Homo sapiens: one gene and its partners. The protein of the gene in region 1 purifies or fractionates together with the protein of each later gene. This does not show direct contact. Each region holds a gene or a part of one and is shown in the gene's direction. Other genes may lie near its edges.

The links.
Region 2: the proteins of TNFSF13B (region 1) and NCAPG purify together in Homo sapiens (affinity purification with mass spectrometry; 4 studies listed by BioGRID and IntAct, with this or other methods). This does not show direct contact.
Region 3: the proteins of TNFSF13B (region 1) and IPO8 purify together in Homo sapiens (affinity purification with mass spectrometry; 4 studies listed by BioGRID and IntAct, with this or other methods). This does not show direct contact.
Region 4: the proteins of TNFSF13B (region 1) and SAAL1 purify together in Homo sapiens (affinity purification with mass spectrometry; 4 studies listed by BioGRID and IntAct, with this or other methods). This does not show direct contact.

Annotation. Positions count from the first base shown.
Region 1 is NC_000013.11:108,265,141-108,272,737, forward strand, and holds the start of TNFSF13B (tumor necrosis factor ligand superfamily member 13B), read left to right. Parts: upstream 1-4,577; 5' UTR 4,578-4,755; coding exon 4,756-5,094; intron 5,095-5,199; coding exon 5,200-5,284; intron 5,285-7,597. UniProt on the Homo sapiens protein: Cytokine that binds to TNFRSF13B/TACI and TNFRSF17/BCMA. TNFSF13/APRIL binds to the same 2 receptors. Together, they form a 2 ligands -2 receptors pathway involved in the stimulation of B- and T-cell function and the regulation of humoral immunity.
Region 2 is NC_000004.12:17,841,942-17,845,365, forward strand, and holds the end of NCAPG (condensin complex subunit 3), read left to right. Parts: exon of another isoform or gene 1-368; coding exon 369-438; exon of another isoform or gene 439-1,360; coding exon 1,361-1,484; 3' UTR 1,485-2,924; downstream 2,925-3,424. UniProt on the Homo sapiens protein: Regulatory subunit of the condensin complex, a complex required for conversion of interphase chromatin into mitotic-like condense chromosomes.
Region 3 is NC_000012.12:30,692,839-30,700,030, reverse strand, and holds the start of IPO8 (importin-8), read left to right. Parts: upstream 1-4,161; 5' UTR 4,162-4,383; coding exon 4,384-4,467; intron 4,468-4,703; exon of another isoform or gene 4,704-5,020; coding exon of another isoform or gene 5,021-5,053; intron 5,054-7,192. UniProt on the Homo sapiens protein: Involved in nuclear protein import, either by acting as autonomous nuclear transport receptor or as an adapter-like protein in association with the importin-beta subunit KPNB1.
Region 4 is NC_000011.10:18,089,054-18,096,090, reverse strand, and holds part of SAAL1 (protein SAAL1), read left to right. Parts: intron 1-3,766; coding exon 3,767-3,846; intron 3,847-5,597; coding exon 5,598-5,657; intron 5,658-5,800; coding exon 5,801-5,916; intron 5,917-6,580; coding exon 6,581-6,761; intron 6,762-7,037. UniProt on the Homo sapiens protein: Plays a role in promoting the proliferation of synovial fibroblasts in response to pro-inflammatory stimuli.

The DNA of each region.
Region 1 (7,597 bases):
AGATGAATGAATTTTAAAAATGTGGTATAATACAGTGGCCTACTATTCAGCCATAAAAAGTAAAATCCTGTCATTTGTAGCCACCTGGATGAGCCTGGACGACATTATATTAAGTGAAATAAGCTAGGCACAGAGAGACAAATACTGTGTAATCTCACTTATATATGCAATCTTACAAAGTTGATTTTATTGAAGTAGAGAGTAGGAGAGTGGTTACCGGAGGTATTGGGGTGGAGGTTTGTCACCTGGTACAAAGTCAGGGTTAGATAGGAAGAACGATTTCCAGTGTTCCATTGTACAGTAGGGCGGCTATAGTTAACAATAATATATTATATATTTCAATAGAGCTAGAAGACAGGATTTTCAAAGTTCTCACCAGATAGAAATGATAAATGTCTAAGGTGATGGATATGCTAATTTTCCTAATTTGATCATTACACATTGTATACATATATCAAAACATGACACTGTATCTCATAAATATATATGTGTCAATTAAAAATTTTTTAAATTAAAAATTATATACAGTGATTAACATTTAGCCTTTCAAATCAAATTTAACTATATAATAACTTAACACACATACTCTCTCTCTCTCCATTATATATAATATATATATAAAATATATAATATATAAATATTTTATATATATATAATATTTCTACTGGAAAACAGCATATTTTCCTGAAATGCAATACTTAACCTATATCATAAATCTTCCATATTCTGAGTGCTTTAGGATACCAATTTTATCTAGATGTAATTTTAGGTACATTTACAGATCGAGTACATTCACAGATCTAGAAGAGCTGTTGTCGCCATGCTTGACTGGTCTAAATCCTTTTCCTCAAAGGATTTTGAGGAAAACACGCTTTTCCTCAAAGAAAAAGGGCAAAGGAGAGATTCCTCAAACCTGTAATTCTTTATAGCACTATTTAGCCAGAAATTTATAATTCATTTTTAAAAATATTTTTGAGGTTGTCAATGTAAGAACATAGTCAGAGAGTGAATGTTTATTTTCTGCTGTTTCTGACTCCCGGACAAACTCACAAGTTATATTCTTTTGAATCCTATCTGCCTATTTCTGAGTGGATAGAACAGTTTCGTCAGTCACAAAGTCCTAGTATCTCAGTTTGTTTATTGAATGACAGAAGAATGCTTTACACTTACATTGAGAAAAAGATGTGTGTAAAAAGCAGCTAAATACTGTCAATAAACACTGAATGTATAATAAGATCGCTGCACAATCTGTGGCTCAGATACAGTGGCCTTTTGTCCCTGAATAAACTTGTGATGTGGTGTATTATTCAATGAACGTGAACATGCTTCTTGTTTAACAGAATTTCTGTTAAATTATTGCCAAACCATTTCCTCTTCCGGAAACAGATTCTTGATTTATGGAGTAATGACTTCCTTTTGTTCATCTAATAAGAGATTCAAGAGTCATGAATGTCACTTCGTTTTCTACCTGTCTTTAGAGAAAATGCAGCTGTCAGATCCCTGTGGAGGATGTGCACATTGCCATCCCTGCTTGCTGTCCCTCTAGCCAGAGGGACATGATGGCTGCCCTTTGTGGAAGAAGAACTTGCCCATTTTATGCATGGCACGGCTCACTGCCGCAACAAACATCGGCACTGGTTTAAAAATGGCTGCGTGCAGGCTGGCCAGTGACTCTCTTTTGAGATGTTCAGGCATGAAAGTCTCTGCCCAACACAGTGACGAAGGCAGAGGGAATTCCCTAAAGCAGTCAAATCATTCCCTGTCTTCAGAATTTTCTCTGAGGGATATAGAGGGGAACGACTCACCAGAAGAGGGAGAATGTCCATGGATGGAGAGAAGCAGTGGCTACAGGAAACCCTGAGTGAAACGCAGAGAGAAATTGCTTTCTAGCACTGCGTTGCATCCTTTCATTTCTGCATGTATTTAAATCATAAGAATACACAAACACATCATCTAAAGGATCTCAATGACTTTCAGTAAGAAGGCCTTCATACAATTCCCATACGAATTCCATTTTTTATGGCAAGGTTACTCCGTATGACTCACCCTAATTGTTCTGGAACAAGAACTGACAGAAAAGAATTGGACTGTCATTCCTGATGCAAAAGGGTTTACAAACATCCTTCTAAAAGAAGACTTCCACCTGAGAAGGTTGATGGAGGACCTCTTGTCTACGTACCTGTTAGACTGGGGCACGGTCACCTTATTGTGGGAGTTATAGGTAAGAAAAATTAGAGAGCAGCTTATTTTGGGGGCCAGGATAATAACAAGTTATTTTTAAAAGGTCTTGGAAACTTGCAGATGCAAAGGGAAAAAAACAAAAAACAAAAAACAATCCTAATGGTAAAAACAAGTAAGTCTGACTGCGTCATTTTGTAGTAAGACAATGAGGAAATGGGAACTCGTCAGAGGGTAACTGGGTGGTGCCTGTAAAAGTGAAGATGTGCTTCTCCCTCAGCAGGCATTTGCTGGGAAACCCTTGCAGACGTTACAAGCACAGTTGTAGAAAATATCTATTAGAGCACTGTTTGTAACTGAAAAATGTTTCATTCATACTTTGAATGTAAAGAATAAAAGTGAATGAAAAAATGGAAGCATTGCACCGTGCTTTTGATTTACATTTCCCTGATCATTTAGTACAACCACCATGGAAAACAGTGTGGAGATTCCTTAAAGAACTAAAAGTAGAACTACCATTTGATCCAGCAATCCCACTACTGGGTATCTACCCAGAGGAAAAGAAGTTGTTATACGAAAAACATACTTGCACACACATGTTTATGGCAGCACAATTCACAACTGCAAAAATATAGAACCAGCCCAAATGCCCGTCAATCAATGAGTGGATAAAGAAACTATGATACATATATATGATGGAATACTACTCACCCATAAAAAGGAATGAATTAATGATGTTCGCATCAGCCTGGATGGGATTGGAGACAATTATTCTAAGTGAAGTAACTCAGGAATGGAAAACCAAACATTGTATGTTCTAACTCACAGTGGGAGCTAAATTACAAAGATGCAAAGACATAGGAATGATCTAATGGACTTTAGGGACTCAGGGGAAAGGGTGGGAGGGGGGTGAGGAATAAAAGACTAAAAAATGGGTTCAATGTGTACACTGCTCGGGTGATGGGTGCACCAAAATCTCACAAATCACCACTAAATAACTTAACCATGTAATCAAATACCACCTATTCCCCAAAAACCTGTGGAAATAATTTTTTTTTAAATGGAAGCATCCAAAATGTAATTTGTTTCCACATTCTTGTAAGCCTCATTATGTATCCCAGGGACAGTTAATATCGTCATACGAATTCACAGGTGAGGAAATGGAATCACAGAGAGATTATGTACTTTGCATAAGGAGAGCGAGGGTGAGGCAGGATTTGCAGTCTAGAAGCCTGGGTCTGGAGTTCTCCACTTTGCACTATATCATTTCTGTAAACTTCTTACTTAAGACTGTGTGGAAATGTAGAGTGAGACAGAACTAAAGCTCACTATTCTTAGTCCACAGGGGAGTAGTGACTACCCAGGGCTTGGTAAGTGCTCAGTAACGTTTGTTGAAAGATGAATCAATATTTCAATGCTGGGGCAAAGCAGTGAAAAACTGGGGAATGTCCAGGAACCAGCCATCAGGATAAGGCAGGACTAGAATGAATGCAACAGTCCTCACAGGTCCACCAAGTCAACAACAGAAAAATCCAAAGCTAAGGTGGCTCTTGTGTGATCAAGGACCTCTTGTACACCGACCTGTTAGGCTGTGGCACAGTCAACATGGGAGTTGTAGACAAGCTACTTGAGAGTGGTTAATGGTAGCAGTCAGGCATTTGGAGCTGGAGGCAAGGCTGATTCTCCTCAACTAGTATCATATTGAGCGGGGACTTAAAGCCTCAGAAGTCTGAGCAGAAAAGCTGAGACCAGGCTCCTTGGGACAGGCTGTTCATATGCATGATTGAGTTTCAGTGATGAGTCCCAGAAGGAAAAAGTTTATGCATGTTTTCCTTAAAAATATATTCACTTATATTTAGAGAATCCTTCAGATATCTAACCTAAATACGTCTGTAACATTTACTCTCATTCTTTTTATGACATTATTAGTATAATAATATGAATAATTCCCAGTGGACTTACTTCCACACTTCCTTCAAGGATTCTCCATTTTATTTCATAATTGAAGACTGTTAATAAATCACTCTCTAGCTAAGAACAATTCAATGCTAAAACACTTAGCTTATCTGACCTTCACATTAATTATTTTTATGACAGCAGCAGGAACTTTCAGCTGCTTTTCCCCCTTCCTTATGAAGCCATGTGGTCCCAAGCAGACAGAGTTCCCTTGCTACACTTAAGGGTGGGCTTCTCAGACCTGAGCATATCTTAAAAGCTTTCCCTTGACTGTGCCAATCCAAACTCCAAGTTTCCTCAGCAGATTTAAGGGGTTTTAAATCTACTTGAGCATGAGTGTTATGAGAAGACTTTGAAATTCTTACAAAAACTGAAAGTGAAATGAGGAAGACAGATTGAGCAATCCAATCGGAGGGTAAATGCCAGCAAACCTACTGTACAGTAGGGGTAGAGATGCAGAAAGGCAGAAAGGAGAAAATTCAGGATAACTCTCCTGAGGGGTGAGCCAAGCCCTGCCATGTAGTGCACGCAGGACATCAACAAACACAGATAACAGGAAATGATCCATTCCCTGTGGTCACTTATTCTAAAGGCCCCAACCTTCAAAGTTCAAGTAGTGATATGGATGACTCCACAGAAAGGGAGCAGTCACGCCTTACTTCTTGCCTTAAGAAAAGAGAAGAAATGAAACTGAAGGAGTGTGTTTCCATCCTCCCACGGAAGGAAAGCCCCTCTGTCCGATCCTCCAAAGACGGAAAGCTGCTGGCTGCAACCTTGCTGCTGGCACTGCTGTCTTGCTGCCTCACGGTGGTGTCTTTCTACCAGGTGGCCGCCCTGCAAGGGGACCTGGCCAGCCTCCGGGCAGAGCTGCAGGGCCACCACGCGGAGAAGCTGCCAGCAGGAGCAGGAGCCCCCAAGGCCGGCCTGGAGGAAGCTCCAGCTGTCACCGCGGGACTGAAAGTGAGTTTGCAGCAGCTGCAAGACGCAGGCAAGATCCTGCCTACACTGCTGCCTCTCCCTCGCCTCAGCTGTCTTTCTAATAACTTGAAGTTTTTCTGTTCATAGATCTTTGAACCACCAGCTCCAGGAGAAGGCAACTCCAGTCAGAACAGCAGAAATAAGCGTGCCGTTCAGGGTCCAGAAGAAACAGGTATGTTTTGGGCACAGACACTTTTAGGAGTCAGGGATTAGAGAATAACATCCAGTCTGGGGGAGCTGGAGGTGAGTATCCCCTCTATGAACCTATTAAATAGAGACTATGAAATTTGCCATCCAAAGCAGACATTGCTTTAGAGCAAAGCCCCAGCGCTGGCAAATGTAACAGGCTGCATGGGTGTGCTTTTTCCTCCAATGAGCAGATCGTGTGACTGGAAGCATTTCTCTGTGCGTGTGTAAGTATTTATCTGTGCATTAAGCATAGAGGAGATAAAAGGGCCATATGTGTTTCCTCAGGTAGATAATGCCCTCCCATGTGAGAAGCATTATTCATCACTCCAGAAAAATAAAAAAAAGCATTACATGTTAGAATTAGACTTTGCTTACTACCTGGGTCATAGAAAGTTAAAGACATCTGTTTTCTGAATGTACATTACATGTTGTGAAACCAGGTGAAGGTTGTAATGAAAGGCCCTGTATGTTGTACTTTAATTTTGTTTATTTGTTAAAAAGGTTATTTTACACACACACACACACACACGCACAGACACACACACAGATTTTAAAGCTTCTCTTTAAGGTACGCTTTTCCAGGGGATCCATGCATTTATCGTCTTCTTATAATCGTCCTTTACTGATTTCTGACTTTCTTCATGTTCTGCTCATTCCACGGAACTTTACAGAGTTGGTGGGGCCTACCAAAATGATCGATTCTAGTTCTTTCATTTGAAGGTGAAAAAAAGAATCTTTGTATACATTTATTAAAGTTATAATATAACAAATTCTTAATATTATTGTCCTTTTATTAAATATATTGAAAGAATATTTTTTGAGCACCTGGAACGTATCGTACAGCTATAGACCAGAATAGGCATTTTCAAACATACTATTTCGTTTAACCTTCACAGTGACGCTATGAAGTCCACAGAATACATGCAATAATTTATGTATATTTTCACTTCTGAAGAGAATTGCATAAGAAATGTAGTGAGAGATAGACCAGGGACCCTTCTATCACACACACACACACACACACACACACACACACACACACACACACGCATGAGGTACCCTGACTATAAACTTATTTTTTGACTATATGCTTTATTCATAAAAAATTGTTTCTTATTTTATAAAACCATAATTTTTGGTATCTGGTTATTGTATCTTTATACTAGTTATCAGGAATAACTGGGCTTAAACATTTTTAAATTAGGAAACATGCACATTTTTATTATTTTAACACATCAATTATTTTTATCGTCTGCATTTTATAGTCTATATTTCCTACATAATTGAAAATAATACGGAATATATACTATAATATTTTTTGTTTTGACTTATACAATAAGGATTTTTCCTATTTCTAAGTATTTTTCATATATCTGTATTAATTTATCTAACAATTGTTTTAAATGGTTATTTCCATTCTCTTTGCTATAATACAACATGCAAAAGTTTTGCACAGAACTCTTTTATTTCTGTGAAATTATATATTCAATATAAAATTCATATAGTGGAATATCTGAGCTAGGGAGAAGAAACATCTTCATCACCCTTGCTTCCGACTGCCATATTGTTTTCAAAATGAGTTATACATGCAATCAAAAATGTGGTGTACCGGTTCTCCACATTCTTGCTTGCATGTTATTTTTAAAGTGTATTTTGACTAGTTTAGTAGTTGTAAAACAATATCTCACATTTATTTTGATGTGTTGCTTGTTTACTAATATGAATAAACTTTCTGCATATTTTGATTATTTATAATTTTATCTTTTGCTAATTTTTATTTATAACTGTCTCCACTTGTCTGTCCCATGTTTTTATAATTTTGGATAAGCTCTTCCTAATTAGACATATTGATAATTGATCAAAATTTTGATGTAAATATTTTAACAGTTTTGCTTCTTTTTTTACTTGAACATTTTGCATTTCTCTATAGTAAAGTGATAATCTTTAAAAAATTTTCCCTAATATTAAAGCTAAAAATACATTTGTTCATGTTTTCTTAAGTAGTTGACTCCCTGCCACTTTGACTTTTTCATAGTTGAGTGTTTTGTTTTAACTCATTAGTCCTTCTGTTGTTTATTTTGATGAATCATCTCACATTGGCTTTAACTTCCCCCTCTCTCTTTTTTCCTTTCTAACTGGTATCTCAACCAAATGTATTAAATAGTTCTTTTTAACTCCTTGGTGTTGAAAAGCTTACTGTGTTTTATTAAGTTCCTCATAAGAGTTGAATCTATTTGAGACTCTTTTTTTTAATTGATTATTCTATTTATATGCTTTAAAGAATATTTTTAAGGTA
Region 2 (3,424 bases), on another chromosome or scaffold:
TAATTTTCATGAGTCTCCACAGACTTTGTGCTATAGCAATAATAGAGGTACTTCATTATAACACATTTTTCATATACTGTCCTCAAATACATTGAACTAAAATTTGCCTTCTTTTAACTTGCTTGAAATTTCCTTATTTTCCCTTACTCATTATTAGTGCTTACAAAATAAATTAAGTTTTAATCTTGCTTGGGTTCCTTTTTCTGTGGCAGTGATAACTGGTACCAAGATGGCTAGAACAAGTAGGAGATACATGTGTTGAAAGGATTGTTGTGTTGAAGACAAAGGATTTAGTTAGCCTAGAAACTAGATTAAAAACAAAAAGCAACTGATAATAAATCCTGATAATGAATTATACTATCTTCAAGGACAGAGAAAAGTGACAGTTTCAGCTAGGACGAACAGGAGGTGTCAGACTGCTGAAGCCGACTCTGAAAGGTATGTCATGCATGTCTAGAATATATGGAGGCCTATCTTCACTTTTTATTTCTACAAGTAGAAAAAAACTAATTTTCTTGCGAATGAGAGAGAATATATAACAAGATAGTGAAAACTATAAATAGCTGTCTTAGGTATATAGTCTAAAATTCCATCATCAAGAGCATTTGACTTCTTACGGCGTGTTTGCTTTTGCCTATTAGCTGGCATGGTCTTTAGTACTATCTTTAATATGTTGTTTCAATTTTTAATTACATGATGTGACTCCTCTTTGATCTTCAGTTAGCAAACTCTTGATTTTGATAATATTTGGGTTCTCTACACTTACATACTGATAGAATAATTCTGTCTATAATTTGGGTATATTGTGTGGTAGAGTGTTTTATTTTTGGCTTCTGTCAGTCAAGCCACTGTTAGAGCTGAAAGTTGGTAGCTGTCTTGTATTCATTTGCAAAATTGTATTGTGTGTATTTTCAGTACATAGTTTTACACTGTTGATTAAATTTGTCTTTTTTGGGGGGAAACTTGTTTTTTACTATGTTTTTGGAATTTATTGCTTAAATCAAGAGAGAGAACTTAATTTTTTTGTCACTTCTTGAGTTTCAAAGAAATCTCTTTTGGACAGTTATGGTCCTCGTTTAATTACAAGCTTCATTACAAGTTTGTGGCTTTTTTTCCTGTATAACACCAGGTTCTGTTATAGTATATAAAATCATTAGCTAGATTTTCCCTGATTCACTTTGCTAGATAGCCAAGTCAGTGTTTTTTTGACATTGAGATTTTAGTTTTAAGCTAAGTCAATGGAATCAGGCTATCAATTAAACACTGATAGAATGTGAGTCAGAAACAAAAAAGTTTTATTTATAAATAAACTGGTTTTAAAGCTTGTATCTAAATTCGTGTATTTTCAACATCTATTTAGTGATCATGAAGTTCCAGAACCAGAATCAGAAATGAAGATGAGACTACCAAGACGAGCCAAAACCGCAGCACTAGAAAAAAGTAAACTTAACCTTGCCCAATTTCTCAATGAAGATCTAAGTTAGGAAAGACGATGGAGGTGGAATCCTTTAAGATTATGTCCAGTTATTTGCTTTAATAAAGAAGAAGTTACCCTTGTCAAAATCAGAACAAACCTGATGTCTTTCTGAAGATTTTCTGCTGTGCGCTTCCACGTTACTTTGGCCTGTATTAAAGCAGTAGAGCAGCATCAGTTATTATAGTCCAGAAAAAGTGTGCATCAGTCAGTCACACAGATTTATCACAATCTGAGGTGGGCCTAGGAATCTCATTTTTAAATAGTCTCTCCAAGTGATTCTTATGAACTCTTTATGTTTAAAATCATGTCATTATGGAAAACTTACAAGTGTAACTAGCTAGTAGCTTGCATTTGAGAAGCTTATGACTTAGATGGGCAGAATCAACAAAGATGAAACCGCCTGAGGACACATTTAACAAGTAACATTTCTAGGGAAAATGAAGGAAGTACCACAAACTGGCTAGAAAGGAGCTTATCAATCACCAGTGAGGAAGACCAGTATAACGTTCAACAACAGTTATTTTGACAAAAACTTATTTTGTGATTCCTACAGTGAAAACATTTTTGGTGATATCTGCCTGGGAAATCTCTCTTCCTAAAGTATTTGTATATGGGAGTCCTTGTTTGTGAATGTTTCCTGGATTAGGGAGGTGTCAACATAAATGTATTATTAACCATGAAGCTGCTCGCTATATTTTTGGCATAACAAAATAATATTTATTTACTGTGGATAATAATTCTAGTGGGAATATAATGTGACAGGAACTTCTCTTTATATACGCTACCAATTTATGAGCACTATTCACTGTCAATTTCATTTCTTGTCTTTTGAAATTGACACTTGGCCTGACTTACGAAACTTGTACTATATGAAATTGGTCCTCTTTTCTGCAATACCCAACGAAACACCTTTTCTCTTTATTATTCAGAAATGTCCTAACATGGATCTGTTTGTTTTAATAATTGTGCTTTTTTTAGGCTTATCATCTACTAGAGGCCATTTACTTAAGGTGAAATTTTAAGATGGAGCTAAAGTAAGATCACTGGTTTTTAGAACCAAATTGCTATACATATGTGCCTCATAGAACTTATAAAAGGAGTCAAAGTTTCAAAGCAAGATAGTTATTAAGCAAAAGGAAAAATGGTAATGATAGAAAGTCAGTTAAAAATAGATGATTGTTCTTCATTCTGTTTGTTGGCTCTGTGTTCTCCTGTGCTTCAGATTCCTTATGTGTTGTTGTTTTAAAGACAATTTGCAGGGGGTTGGGAGAAGGACTGAAAAGGTACATTAAGTGTGCTGTAAGGAAAAGTCTTAGAAACATAATAAGCTAAAATCCCATTCACACATGGCCAGGCTATCCAAAAAGAAAGGAGCCATGTTCTCATGTGGTTTACCATACCAAAGCTTGCTTTCTCTGGCATGGGAAAAATAAATTTAAGCACCAAACCTTTAGTATTCTGAGTATTCAGTTTTTAGACATAGTCATGTAGCCATTGCTGAAACTGTGCTTTGCACTATTAAAGGTAGGGAATGTCCTGCTTTTAAAAGTCATCCCTTTAACTTTAAAATAAAAGGCTAAGGTACAATAAAACAGATGTAAATCCATTTACCATTTTTCATTCAAAACTGGTAACTTACAGAAACCACATAGTATTTTTCTCTATCAAGAGGCACAGATTTGCTGAACAGTAAACATGCAATTGTGCCATTGCTCTTAAAGCCCACAGACTTAGATTTAAAATACAGAGAAAGAACTGATAAGCTCACATTTTCCTGTGAATGGGAAACATGCTACTTGACAAAAAGCTATGATCAACTTTTTTTCTTCTGTACATATATAACGTTGAAGGAGATTTACTTCTAAGAGATACCTTTGCCTTTTCTTTCACCAATTTGCTTCGAGGTAGTTGGTATCCACCTGTTTTACAACTGCTCATGGGTCAGGT
Region 3 (7,192 bases), on another chromosome or scaffold:
CCTCATATTGCCCTTCTACAGTCACACCCACTTCCCCCTTGCCACCACCTCCACTTTAACCCTTAGCAACCATGGATCCTTCTATATTTTTTAAATTTTAAGAATGTTATATAAATGGCATTTGACAAGATGCAACCTTTGGGATTGGCTTCTTTCCCTCAGCGTAATTCTCAGAAGATTCATCAAGGTTGCTACATGTATCTTTTTTTTTGTTGCTCAGTAGTATCCCATGGTATAGATGTACCATGTTTATTTAACCATTCACCCACTGAAGGATATCTGGATTGTTTCCAGATTTGGGTTATGATGAATAAAGCTGCATATACACTCACAAGGTTTTTTTTATGAGCACAAGTCTTCATTTGTCTAGGACCAATGCTCTGGAGTGCAATTGCTGTGTCATATGGTAGTTGCATATTCAGTTTTTTAAAGAAACTGCCCAATTGTTTTCAGAAAGGCTGTATCACTGTACATGTTACCACCAACATATAAGTGATCCAGTTTCTGTACATCCTCACCAGCGTTTGGTGGTGTCACCGTTTTTGATCTCTCCTTTTATGTTATTGGAATAACTACCTTAAGTCTCTCCCTTCTCCAATCTATCATCTTCAGTGCTGAGTTCAGTTTTAGACATGTGCCTTAAGTGATTTGAGGGATAGATATTGGTAGAAATGTATAGGCATTTGGATATATTTAGTTTAAGGGAAGAGATCTTACAACTAGTTTTGTAAGCTATCTTTGTTTAGTTGATGGTTAAAGTTATGTAAGTGGATGAAATTACTGAAAAATGGGTGGATGAGAAAGAGAAGATGGCTGAGGACAGAGTCCTGAGAAGCGTCGAAGACTTGGGCGATTGAGTAATCAAAGGGTTAGGAATGTATTCTGTAAGAGAAAACAAGAAAAGAGATAATTTAAAAATAGTATGAAATATGATACCGGATATTAGAGGCTGGGTGTGGTGGCTCACACCTGTAATCCTAATTTGGGAGGCTGAGGCTGCCAGATTGCTTGTGCCTAGCAGTTTGAGACCAGCCTGAGCAATGTGGTAAAACCCTGTCTCTACTAAAAATAAAGCTGGGCGTGGTGGCATGTGCCTGTAGTCCCGGCTACTTGGGAGGCTGAAGTGGGAGAATTACCTGAGCCCAGGAGGTCGAGGCTGCAGTGAGCAGTGATCATGCCTCTGCACTACAACCTAGGCAATGGAAGTGAGACGCCCTCCCCCAATCTCTCAATCTCTCTCTCTCTCTATACATACACACACACACACACACACACACACACACACACACGCGCGCGCGCGCGCGCGCGAGAGAGAGAAAATTTAAGTTGAGAACTAAAAATGTCTCTTGCAGTTGGTATACCCCCTAAAGAGGTCGGTGTTCATCTTTGCTTGGCAGTTTTAGTGGGAAATGAGGGGGAGAAGCCTGGGGATAGGTGGTTGAAGCATGAATGGGAAGTAAGCTGACACAGTGAATGAAGACCATTCTTTGGAATGAAGTGGAAAAGAATGAGCAATAATTAGCATTACTGAAGATTATTTTTTTGCTGGGGGAAATGTTTTTAGGCTGAGGTTGAATCAGTGGAGGAAAAGAGGCTGAAAAAGTACGAAAAAAACTTACACATTGTCAACAATGAGCACATTATAATGACTAAAATTTATTTTAATGAAAAAATGTATTTAAGAGAGGAGAGATTTATGGAACAGGGTCCTGGAGGAGATGGGAGAGAATGGGGTTCAGACTGCAGAGGAGATGAAGAGGGATAAGCGGAGATGAATTTGTTGTTGAGTTGAGCCTGAGGGTTTTGCTCATCTTTGCAGGGTTTGGTGAGAAGGCGTAGGGAGCTTGAGAAGAGTCCTGAGAGTTGAAACGCCACTGAGGGAATGGAAGATGTTGCTGATTAAAGGCAAGGAATAGGAATAGGATGGTTGCATCTGATTAAAGAATACATCTGATATCAGTTTGCACAGTGGGTCAAGGCTAGAGTTAAGAAGCTGAATTGGGGGTTTAATAGCAGAGAATGATGTGTAGTGAGTAATGGATAGACTAAGAACTGAAGTAGTGATTGAATTGGAAAACAAGCTTAGAATTTTTGAGGAAGAGAGAAATGGAAGAATTAGTTCTAATTATAAAAGAGGATATTGGAGTTAAGATTTTCAGAGATAAAAAATTTTTTAGACATTCATGATGTCCAAGAGAGTGGTTTAGTGAAATAGTGTTCATAAGACTCTGGAGTGCTAAGTTTATATTTTATTTTGAAATTGATGAGAAATCAAGGAAGAGACATAGTAATATTAACTTTTCAGAAACTTTCTTCTGATGATAGTGTGAATAATGGATTAAAGAGGGGCAATACTGGAAGCAATTAGACATGTTAAATTCACTGTGAAGCACTTTTGCATCCAACTGAGGGGGAAGCTTTCAAGCCACCAAGTTTTCAGCCACATGTTTTCTACTCTCTCAATTGAACTCAGTTAATTGACCCAATCTATCTTAATTATCTGCTCCTGAAAAGATCACAGCCCCTCAGCTGTGTTTTGCCCACATCATCATCTTTATTAAATGTAATTAGAACCCTCTCTTCTGGGTTAACCTCAGGAAGAACCAGCTCCTTGATATTTTCATGCCATTGAAATTGTGGCGCCAGATATGGCCACAGTGGATAGAAACAGTATAACTTTTCTGCTTACCTTTCACTACATTTTTGAGAAGGTCTGAAAATTTTTCATAAAACTCTCAGGGATGTAGTTTTCAGTTTCTGTGACCTTTGTCTTTCTGAAATGGGAGAGGTTCCCTTGTCCCCCTCACAGGGCGTGCATTGGGGGTGTGGCTCGCTTCTTCAGTGCCCCGCTGCTCAGACCTCTAGAGAAGCATACAGACCGGCAGGCTGTGGGGCTCCGACCCCTTGACAGAGTCTGGGGGTGAATGTTTACAGCTCCTGAAGCCCCAGTGGGTGTGTGTTACAGGATGCTCTTTCAGTTTGCCTTTAGGGGGCTTGTGTTAACCAGCTCAATTAGACCCTCTACCTTGTCGCACAGACAGCGAGCTTTCTGTATCCTGGGTTCTTGCCTTGGTGTACCAGAAGAATTGGATCACACGTGGGCTTGGAGAATGAGTGCAAAGTTTTATTGAGTGGAAGTAGCCCTCAGCAGATGAGGGACCCAGAAGGGAAATGGTTTTCCTCTGGAGTTAGGCCGCTTGGCGGCCCGGGCTCTTTTCCGACTGCCCAGGCCAACCTCCGCATCGTTCTGCCCGTGAATGGCCTGCGGATGTGCCAGCGAGCTCCTCTTCTTCCACCCTTATGCTCCTCTGGACGTCTGGCTGCCTGTGTACCTGCCTGCTAGGGTCTGGGGTTTTCATAGGCACAGTATGGGGGAGTGGCAGGCCAGGGTGGTCTTGGGAAATGCAACATTTGGGCTGGAAGGCAGGAGTGTCAGTCCTCACCTAGGTCGGTGGGCGTGGAGCCCTAGCAAGGGACCACACACTCCTCTACCCAGCACTTCACTTCGCCCATCCCTATCATTTAAAGGGACCACGCTCTTCCCTTCCCAGCACTCCCCTATCATTTCTACACTGTAAATTTTTTTTGTTTATATTTGTCTCATCTATCAGGTTGTGAATTCCTTCACATTAACTTGCATGGAATTCATCTTGTTATAATGTGGTACCTAAAAATCCTAGTACTCTGGTTCAAAAATATATGTTTAACAAATGTTCAGTGAAAGCGAATGAATGAATGAACGATGACTCCCACACACGGAGGAACCCTGTCCTCCTGTAAGGTACATGATTTGAAGGTCCCAACAAGTCTATCTTGGAACAGGCCCAGTTGCGATGCCCATACAGTTCTCGGACTAACAAAAAGTGTCACACCATCCAGATATGCTTAATTTGGAAGCAGCTGTAAGCAGACTCCCGGCCAGCTCAAGTTTCCTCACCTGGGAAGAGGCGGGAGGCTGTTTACCGTACGGAAGCATAGCGGCCGCCTGCCTGAGTTCGGGAGCGCGGGTTCCTTTCCGGGAAAGAAGCCTAGGCCGTTTTCCGTACAGCAGCATGGCGGCCGCCGACGGGAGGCGGTCATAGCATCACGCCCGGGGGAAGAGGCCGCCGTAAAGGAAGCTCTGCTTCCTCTTCTTCCTTCTCCCGCCTCCCACCGGCTGTCGTAAAACGGTGAATGGAGAGCGAGTTGTGGGGGGGAAAAAGGGAGGACAGGGGGCGCGGAGTCAGAGTGGCGCAGCAAGTGGCCGCAGGTGGCGACGGTGGCGGGGGGTGGGGTGTGAGGTAATCCAGGGGTCGCGGAAGAGGAGGCTGAGAGGGTCAAAAGAAAACTAAAGCTGCAGTCCGGCCTACTGTTCCGGGGGCCGCGGAGCCCCCACCCGGGGAGATGGACCTCAACCGGATCATCCAGGCGCTGAAGGGCACCATCGACCCGAAGTTGCGGATTGCAGCCGAGAACGAGCTCAACCAGGTGAGGAGAGGGTCTTCGGCGACCCTCTTCCGCCGAAGGGGCGCCCCTGCCGGCTGGCCGGGCTCCCTCTCCCCGGCGCCCCTCGTCCTCACCCCCACCGGGCTGGGGCTGACGCCTCACGGCTGGTCCCGCTCTCCGACCCCGCTGCCCCCCGGTCCAGTGGAGCAGGGCTCCCAGGATCTTTGCCGAACAGCTCGCGCACCTGTTGGCCACCTTTGCACCTTTTCGTGTCGTCTCCCTTCTCCAGGGCAGTTTGTTCTGCCTACTTGGTCCGCAAGAAGCAGTTTTTGCAACCTGTGCTAGTGTTTTCAGGGTGTGATTTATTTTCCTTAAGTGCGCGGACTTGGGGAGCAGGTGGGAATTTTACTTACAGTTCAAATCTGAGTTCAGCTTTTTTCCAAACCCAGCCCTTTTTAGGTGTTGCTGTGGAGCACGCTGCCCACCGCCTCCTCCTGTCGGGTTGGCAGGACTGTTTTGACACCGATTGGCCGAGTTTTGCGGAGCGCTGGGCAGTGCTGTTGGGAGAGTGCTCTGGGAAGAATAGGCAGTTTTCATGGTGATACTGCTTTATCTAAGACACATCAAAGTAAGATGTGTTGGAGAAATTTCTTATGAATGCTAAAATGTGTAAGACTTCTTTCTTTTCTCCGTCTCCTGTTCTTCCTAATTAGCCTTGACGTCTTTCCAGCGTTACCCCCACACTTCAAAATTTTAATGATCCCAAACTCCAGCTTATTTCTTCTTCCCTACCGGTACTTAAGAATCACAGACCTCTTACTAAAAAGTAGGGATTAAGAGCTACCACTGGGATGGAGCAACAGCTGTTTTAGGTTGTGATGACTTGTAAAATGTAAATATTCCAAAATCAGCTGTTCTCAAAGCGTTGCCCAGGACCTGGAGCTTCAGCATCACCTGAGAACTTACAAATTATGCAAATTACGGGGCTTCAGTCCAGACTTAACGAATCAGAAACTGTGGGGGTGGGACCAGTTGTATTTTAACTAGCTCCCCCAGGTGATTCTGTGCCTCCCGAAGTGTGACTGAAGTGTGACTGTCCTAAGTAAATGTTTCTGTTGGAATTGACTTTAAAAAGCTGCGTGTTGGGAATCTTTGAAAGGGATTATTTTAATAGGAAACCTAGGTGGAGTTTGGAGTAGGTATAAATGCAGGATTCCCCAGAGATAAAAGGGAGAGTGAAGACACTGCCAATGGAGAGGAGGTTGGGTTGAACTAATGCCCAAAGATAATGCACTGGTGCCTGAAAAAGAAATGGACTGTCACTTAGAATAGGGGGAAGTTAAAGTCAGTACCTGTCCCAGGCTTTGCAGAGTAAAAGTACTGTATGTTGGCTGGCTGGAAGAATAGTAATCCAGGGGTTAGTTAGGAAGAACAAAGCAGGAGCTGAATTTGCAGTCTACTAATATGAACAGGGGAGTTGGCCTGTTTATGACCCCCTTCTCACAATGAGGCCAGGTGTTCCTTTGATATCAGGTTACACTTCCCTGCCCTTCACCTAACCTTCATTTCTTTCTGATTCATCAGTATATAAGTACAGTTGATGTTATAGAAGTGGAAAAAGTATATGAGAAAGCCTGCAGAACTAGGAGACATTTAAGACCCAATCCTATTTTTTTTCCCATGGTATTTCAGACAAAAGCAGGCACGTTCAGGGTGGTATGGCCGTAGACTCTTGATGGTAGTTCAATCCAAATCCATTCCATCATCACTCTGCCCTGCCCCATAGTGTCCCACCTCATCACAGACCGTGGTTTCCCCAGCAATTTCTAAAGGTAGCTTATTGCTATACCACTCATTTAGCATTTATAATTTATATAAAGCATAGTGAAATGCTTTAAGGTTTTTTGAATTGGCTGTAAATAGAACAAAATATAATGTCACCTAACAGTGTAGTAAAACATGCTTATGATGATGGGTTTTGCCTGCTTGTCCTTTGCCACCACTGTAACATCCGACTTTGTTGGATAAATGAGTGGGTAAATCACCATAAGTGGTTATGGTCCACCTCTTCGACTTTAGTCTAGGTCTCCCCTCAGCAAGTATGTTCTGCATAGGGAATGGGAGCAGCTTCTGCGGTATACTGATGGATCTGTCAATTGCCGTTTAGAAAAATAAGCAGCTTCTGCACCACAGCCTATATTCCAATGGATAAATTCTCATTTGGAGCTATATATTTTTTTCAGGCCAGCATTTTTCTGTTACTAGTGAGTAGTTTTCTGACTGCTATTTGTGATATTGTTTCTGTGGGAAAATGTATTTGTAGTTTTATCTCAGGATATTGAGCGAACCCTATACATCTTCCTCATTTTCTATAGACCAGAAGTCCCATTAGAGGCAGCATAGAGGAATAGGAATGGGTAGGTACCTTGCTTAAGTAATTCATCCAGAAAGGTGTCCTCTTTTAATAAATTATCCTTCACATGGCCTCGGTAGGGAAATAAGTTTTTACTTTGATTGCCAAGCTTTTGAATCTCTGCTTTCCATGCATGTGTACATGCAATTTTCATTACCCTTTATTAAGATAATTTGTTTATGTAAATAGCACAGAAATATTTATTAAGTTACTATGTTGCAGATATTGGTATAAGAGTTTGTTTCCATGGAGCTGGGGATACAGGCAAGTAACTAATATAATTTCAGGTCATAAGTGCTGTGGAGAGTAAAGCCCGAGCAAGAGTGTTGGGATGTATAGCCATTCTCTGAAGAA
Region 4 (7,037 bases), on another chromosome or scaffold:
ACTGACAAAATCCACCATTGCTTGAAAACCATTCTAAACTCAGCCTGCTGCTTAAGACCTCTACTCTCTGAACCTAACTCATCTTTCCAGCATAAAATCTGGATAGCCAGGTAACCCTTCTGATTTAGCCAGACCTTTCTACTCCCTGTCTCATGCTGTCTCCGTGCCTCCCTTTGTGTGCCTTCTGTCCCCTCTCAGTATTTGCATCTGTTAATTCACAGTGGTACTTTTCCTTCCACACCTTCCCAAGTAAGTAAGTAAGCTTTCAGTAGTCATTGCTGTTAGTAAACTGCCAAGAACAATAGATAAAGACTAAAGGAGAGGCCTTTATATACTGTGCAGTGTACTGTGCTTTATTGCCAATTAAATTGCCATGTGCTATGCATATCATGGATTAGTAAATATCTGTTCAATAATTATAATTATGAAAAACTGCTGTTTACTGAATACCTGGTCTTACTACTATGAGGTATACTTTCAAAGAACTAAATCTTGGGTGAAGATATGTGTTCAGGGTCACACAGCTAGGAAAGAATGGAGCTGAGATTTCAGCCTAGGCCTGACTTCAGTATAACCACTGTACTGTATTTCCTCTCTTTCAGATTATAAAATGGAGAATTCCATAGTGTATTTTTACAAATTGAATGTTGAATTAGAATTCTTATTTAAGTAGAATGTTCTCTCTGAATTAGGGCCTGATTAACCGTTTTTTCCTTGATTCCTTATATTAATATAAGATTTGATGATTATGCTATTTTTATACTGAGTTTTTCTGTCTTAAATATATTTACTCACTACTAGTATATAAAGAAATAAGCTTATGTCAGGAATGGCACCTTTTAGGAATTAGTCATATTGTTGTATTATATCCGCTGGCCACCGTCTGCTGCCACAGTGATTCTCAGCCTTGGCTGCATGTTAGAATCACCTGGGACAGGGACTCTCAAACTTAAGCATGTCCCCGCATCACTAATTGCCGAGCCTCCCTCCAGAGTTTCTAGTCCAGTAGGTCCAGGATTCCTAATATGTTCCCAGGTGATGCTGGTGCTCTGGTGCATTGCCACACTCTGAGAAGCTTTACCCTAGGGAACTTTTGAAAATCTTGGTCAGGCCATACCCTAGATGAGTTAAAGCAGAATCTCCAAGTGTGAGACTCTGGGCAGCTTTTAAAGTTCCCCAGGTGATTCCAGTGAACAGCCAAGAAAAACTTGATCTTTGATTGGAAGTTCAGTTATTCCCTCTTTAGTTTATAAGGGAAATGTATGTGGTTTTTTTCTGCCCCTACTCACTCTTAATCTTTTCCCAACATTTGACCACCCACTTTTTATTGAAATTCCATTTCTATAGCTCCTGTGTCACCTCACTGTCGTCTCTGACCTCTTCAGTCACTCGTCTCTCACCTTTCATTGGCTTTTTTCTTTCTTCCTTTTTTATACTGTCCCGAATATGGACTTTTTCTAAGGTGTAGGCCCTGATCCTTTGTTCTCATTATATTCATTTTCCTAGTGAACTTATGTGTTCTTTACACCTTTAAGTTGCAACTCTGCCTGTAGGAGCAAAGCCTCGACTTCCCTTCTGATAACTGATGTCACATCTCCAACTTTGTTCAGGCATTCTCTGCTTGCACGCTCTACAGTTGTCCCTTGGTATACATGGGGGATGGTTGCAAGACATTCCCCCATACTGAAATCCACACATACTCAATTTAGCAGTCAGCTCTGTGGAACCTGTGTGTATGAAAAGTCAGCTCTGCATATTGTGCAGGTTTTGCATCTTGAGGACACTGTATTTTCAGTCCAAGTTTGGTTAGAAAAAATCCACCTATGAGTGGACCCACACATTCAAACCTGTGTTCAAGGGTCAGCTGTACTCTCTAACCCTGAATTCTGTATGTCCTCAGTGATTTATGGTCACACTTATCTAATCATAAAAGTCACCTGGTATATGCTGGGTAAACAATAGCTTTCCAGGCTCTACCCTGGAAATTATGATTCAGTAGATCTGAGATGAGATTTGGAAATCTGTATTTTTAACAAGCTCCCTGAGTGATTCTTATGTTCCAGCAAGGTTGGAAACACTGTACCATCTGAACTCATTGTAGCCTTTTATGCACTTTCTTTTTTAGTTTTCCTGTCAACGGGACCAATATCACTGATGGGGAAATGAGGCAACTTGAAAGCTAGGAGTCAAGTTCAACTGCTTTCTCCTTTATCCTCACACTGGATTATTTTGCTTTCACCTTGAGAGTCTTCCTCAGCTTCATCCTTTTCCATGCCTGAGGGCCCTCCTCCTCTTGCATCTTGATAACTGAGGTGCAGTTTGGAATAGTGGTTAAATGCTCAAGCTCTGGAGCTCTGCCGTGTTCTAGTTGGAGATCTTAAGATCTTAGGCAAGTAGCTTAACTTCTCTGTGCCTTAGTTTCCTCATCTGAAAAAATGGGGATACTATTAGTACCTATCACCTAAGTTATTATATGAAATTATACACAGAAAATGCTTAGAGTAATGCCTGGCCACCGTGAGTGGTAATAAACTGTTATTACATATTAATTAACTATTACTGAGATAGATTCTTAAGTTCTTTTCAACTTCTTTTCCCTATACACTAGTCTCCCCTTATCCTTGGGGGTTGCATTCCAAGGCCCCCAATGCCTAAAACCGAGGATAGTACTGAACCCTATTTATAATATGCACAAATTTCCTTTTCCTTCTTCACAGTTTCATGGATAGATTTGTTCTTAGAGATCCTAAGCAACCTCAGCATACATTTTTGTTTGTTTTTCTTATGAAGTCAAGAACTTTTACCTTTTCATGTAAAGAAAGCACTTAATGGCGGCTCCTTGGCATATCCAAATTGCCAGCATCACTACTCTTGTGCTTTGGGGTCATTATTAAGTAAAATAAGGGTGACATGAACACAAGCCCTGTGAGATATCCCGATGGTCGATCTGATAGCCAAGATGGCTACTAAGTAACTAATGGGCAGGCAGCACATACAGTGTGGATATGTTGAACAAAAGAATGATTCACATCCTGGGTGAGACGGTGCAAGATTTCATCGTGCTGCTCAGAAAGGCATGCAATTTAAAACATGAATTGTTTATTTCTAGAATTTTCTATTTAGTACTTTTATACCAAGGTTGACCATGGGTAACTGAAACCATGGATAAAGAGGGACTACACTAATACATTATGCATTTCGCCACCAGAGTAATCTTCCTAAGATACTGTTTCAGTATGTTGTCTCCCCTCCTTGAGCATCTTCATGATTCCAAATAACTTCCCAGATTAAGTCTAATTCTTCAGCACGGCATTCAGAGCCCTTAATCTCAGTCCTTTATACCTGCAGTATTTACCTCATGCTGTTCACCCACTTTGTGCCACAACCAGAGTACTTTATTGTCTACAGTATTCGCCATGTACATGATTCCCTTCCTGCCTTTGCTGATACTTTCCCCTTATTTGAATGTCTGTCTTTTTGTTTGCATATCTCATTCCTATCAATCATTTAAAACTCATTTTATCGATAGAAGTTCTTCTCGCATAGCTCCTGCCTTTGCCCTTTCTTGTTCTTACGTTTTTCATCCCTTCTCAAATACTGTAAGCTTGTCAAGGTTAGGGTACAGGCAGTATATGTATTTCTTTATCCTGCCTCCCCTCCGCCTTGCCCCAAAACTTGGCTCAGCGAAAGTTTTTGTTCAAGTTGATATTTTTGTTTACGTCTTTCGTCTCAGAGCCATTGTGACTTGTAAAATTTGATTTGGCAGGAAATCTGTGTGGGAATTTTAGGTAATATGGCCTGTTTCCAGGAGATATGTGTGTCCATCAGCAGTGATAAAAATCTTGGGTAAGTCTTACTATATAATTATGTTTTTTAATATATTCATTTATATCCTTAAGGAAATTCTAATACATAGGAAAAGTAGCAAATCTGAAAGACAGTCCTTTCTTTGTCTTGATGAACACTCTGTGGGAACTTCATTGTGTGTTGATGATAGCTAGGGGCTTCTTCAGGAGATACTGAAATGATTCAGGATTTAAGCCTGTTTTCTTCAGTAGCAAAGGAACCTGAATTGTCAGCTGGTGGCAATAAGCCAGATAGGGGAAGAACCAGTGGGCCAAAACTTGGAGATGGGGCAGCCAACTGGAATCCAAAACAGTTTAGGGGCAGGGAATCCAATGACTCAGCTGGAGTCTACAGAAACTAGATTTGTTGAATAATGTCATCCTGAGAGCTCTGACTTAGAGTGTAAGACTTGCCAACAACTGGAAGATAAAGGGTTGCCTCTCTGATGAAAAGACTTTCAGATATCTGCTTCGAGGCTCGTTCTCTTCTCCATGTGTAAAGTTCTGGGCAGAAGGTGTTTTAATGGAGGAAACCCCAGTGGTTACTGTGTTCGGAGAACACCCCGAAATTATATGCTGAATTTTGTGAGTGTATTAGTTTTCTAGGCAAAGGGTTCATGGCTTTTAATCAGAATCTCAAAGAAATTTGTACCCAAAATAGGTTAAGAAAACTGTTCTAGGCAGTTTTTGTCAGAGCTGGGGCCATGAGGGTTTTATCACAGGATTCAAGTACCTGGGTTTCTCAGAAAGAGAGAACTCCTAGTTGTGGAGGGACTTTAAGATCCTAGTTCAGAGTATTTATTCCTCAGTAATTTACCATCATCCATGGAACAAATGACTTAAGATTATGTTTGGTCTCTAATGTTCTCTATCAAAAATCCAAAAATGAGAAATGTTAACAAATGTTATAAATTCAGTTAAATGCTTGTCTTAATATTAGTGTGGTGCAATTTATATTGCTGATGGGATATAAATTTGTTGAACCACTTTAGTTGGGCATTATCTGGTCACGTTGGAACATATGCATGTGCTGTGACCAGCTCATAGTGGGCATATATGGTAAGAGAAACTGTGCACGTGTGCATCAGGATAACTCTTAACAAATATTGTAGGAGGATTGCTTGAAATAGCCCCAAATTGGAATCAACAGAAATGTCCATCAACAGTAGTCTGGAAAAATAAATTGTGTTATTTTCACACAATGGAGTGCTCTGCAGCAGTCTGTCAAAGAATAACAGCTAAAGAAACAACATGGGTAGATCTTACATGTATAATTTTCAGCAAATAAATGAAGACTCAATAAGTATAATTTATTTCATATGTTGTCTCCCCTCCTTGACTGTCTTCATGAATCCAAATAACCTCCCAGATTATGTCTATTTATTCAGCATGTCCTCTTAATCCTTTTACCTGCAGTATAAAGCAACACCAAAATATATAAAATAATAAAACTATAGTGCAAAGTAAGGAAATGATTGCTGGAAAAATCAGAATGGTCATCATTTCTAGGTGGGAAAGAGAATTGTGATTTGGAATGGACACATGGTGACTACAAAGATGCAGCTCTGTTCTGTTTCTTGGAAACACGAGTGTTTGCTTTATAATTATTTATTAACTATAGATTTGTATCTTTTGAGCTTTTCTGAATATATGCTGTATTTCACAATAAAGATGTTCAAAAAATTAAATGAAAACTCTGATATTTTAAATGCGAGAAGTGAGGCATATCGGTTAACTTCTTTGTTTTTGTAGGCAGGTGTTATTGCACTGTTTGTATGATTCAGACCCACCTACTCTGCTGGAAACAAGCAGGTATGCTTTTCCTTTTATGAATTCTATAAGGTTACTCATAAGAGTAGATAAGAAAAAAAAGTTAATTTTTTATTTTCGAATTTCCTTTACTGTTTTTTTTTTTTTTTTGAAAAGTAGAAATTCAACCCACGTTTACCATGTAGGTTGTTGCTTACTTGCCTTTCCCAGGCAGAAGTGGCCAGTGTTTGGGTTGAAAGGATCCAGGAACATCCAGCTATTTATGATAGCATTTGCTTCATTATGTCAAGTTCAACAAATGGTAAGTCATCATGTACTCTAGAAAAAAAATGTTTTAAATTGTATCTAATTTTTAGGAAACCATGTAACTATTTCTAGAAGTCACCTTTTTAAAAAAAGCCTTGAGTGCAAGGTAATGAAGTTTGTTTGAGACAGAATCTTGCTCTGTCACCCAGGTTGGAGTGCAGTAGTGTGATCATAGCCTACTACAGCCTCAAACTCCTGATCTCAAGGTATCCTTCTGTTAATCTCCCCAATAGCTGGGACTATAGTCATGCACCGCCATGCTCAGCTCATTTTAAAATTTTTTGTAGAGACGGGGTCTCGCTTTCTTGCCCAGGCTGGTCTCCAACTCGTGTGTTCAAGCAGTCATCCAGCCTTGGGCTCCCAAAAGTGTTGGGAGTATAGGTGTAAGCCACCATGTCCAGCTTTTTGTTTGTTTTTTTGAGAAAGTTTTTTGATTGAAGATACAAAATTTCTTAAACTCCTGGGACACTGATAAATTCCTCATTTAAAAATGAGGAAAGATAAGCAAATTTAAACATAAAAGATAAGTAAATCACCCTTTAGAATAAGTACTGCTTTGGCAAGATTTGGTTTTCTTAGAATAGCTTTAGGAATTTTGCTTAACCCTATTGCTTTTAGCAGTTTGTTTTTCATTTCAATATCTGTTTTATTCTCTGCAGTTGACTTGCTGGTGAAGGTGGGGGAGGTTGTGGACAAGCTCTTTGATTTGGATGAGAAACTAATGTTAGAATGGGTCAGAAATGGGGCTGCTCAGCCTCTGGACCAACCCCAGGAAGAGTCTGAAGAGCAGCCAGTGTTTCGGCTTGTGCCCTGTATACTTGAAGCTGCCAAACAAGTACGGTAGGTGAGCTCTTTTGTGTAAAATGTTCTGGGAAAATGCAATTGCTAGAAGTATTCTCAGATATAAAAGTCTTCTTATATTCCTTACAACAGAATAAAGTACATAGTCACTCCTTGTTACGTTAATTCACTACTACTATTTGTGATGCAACCTGTATAGTGGTTACAAAGTTCCTGTTATATTATCATTTAGCTATAGGCTGTTACTCAACATTAACTGTGGTTTCTGTCTTACCATATTTTATGTAATTTAAATCAAAGAGAAAACATTTTCTT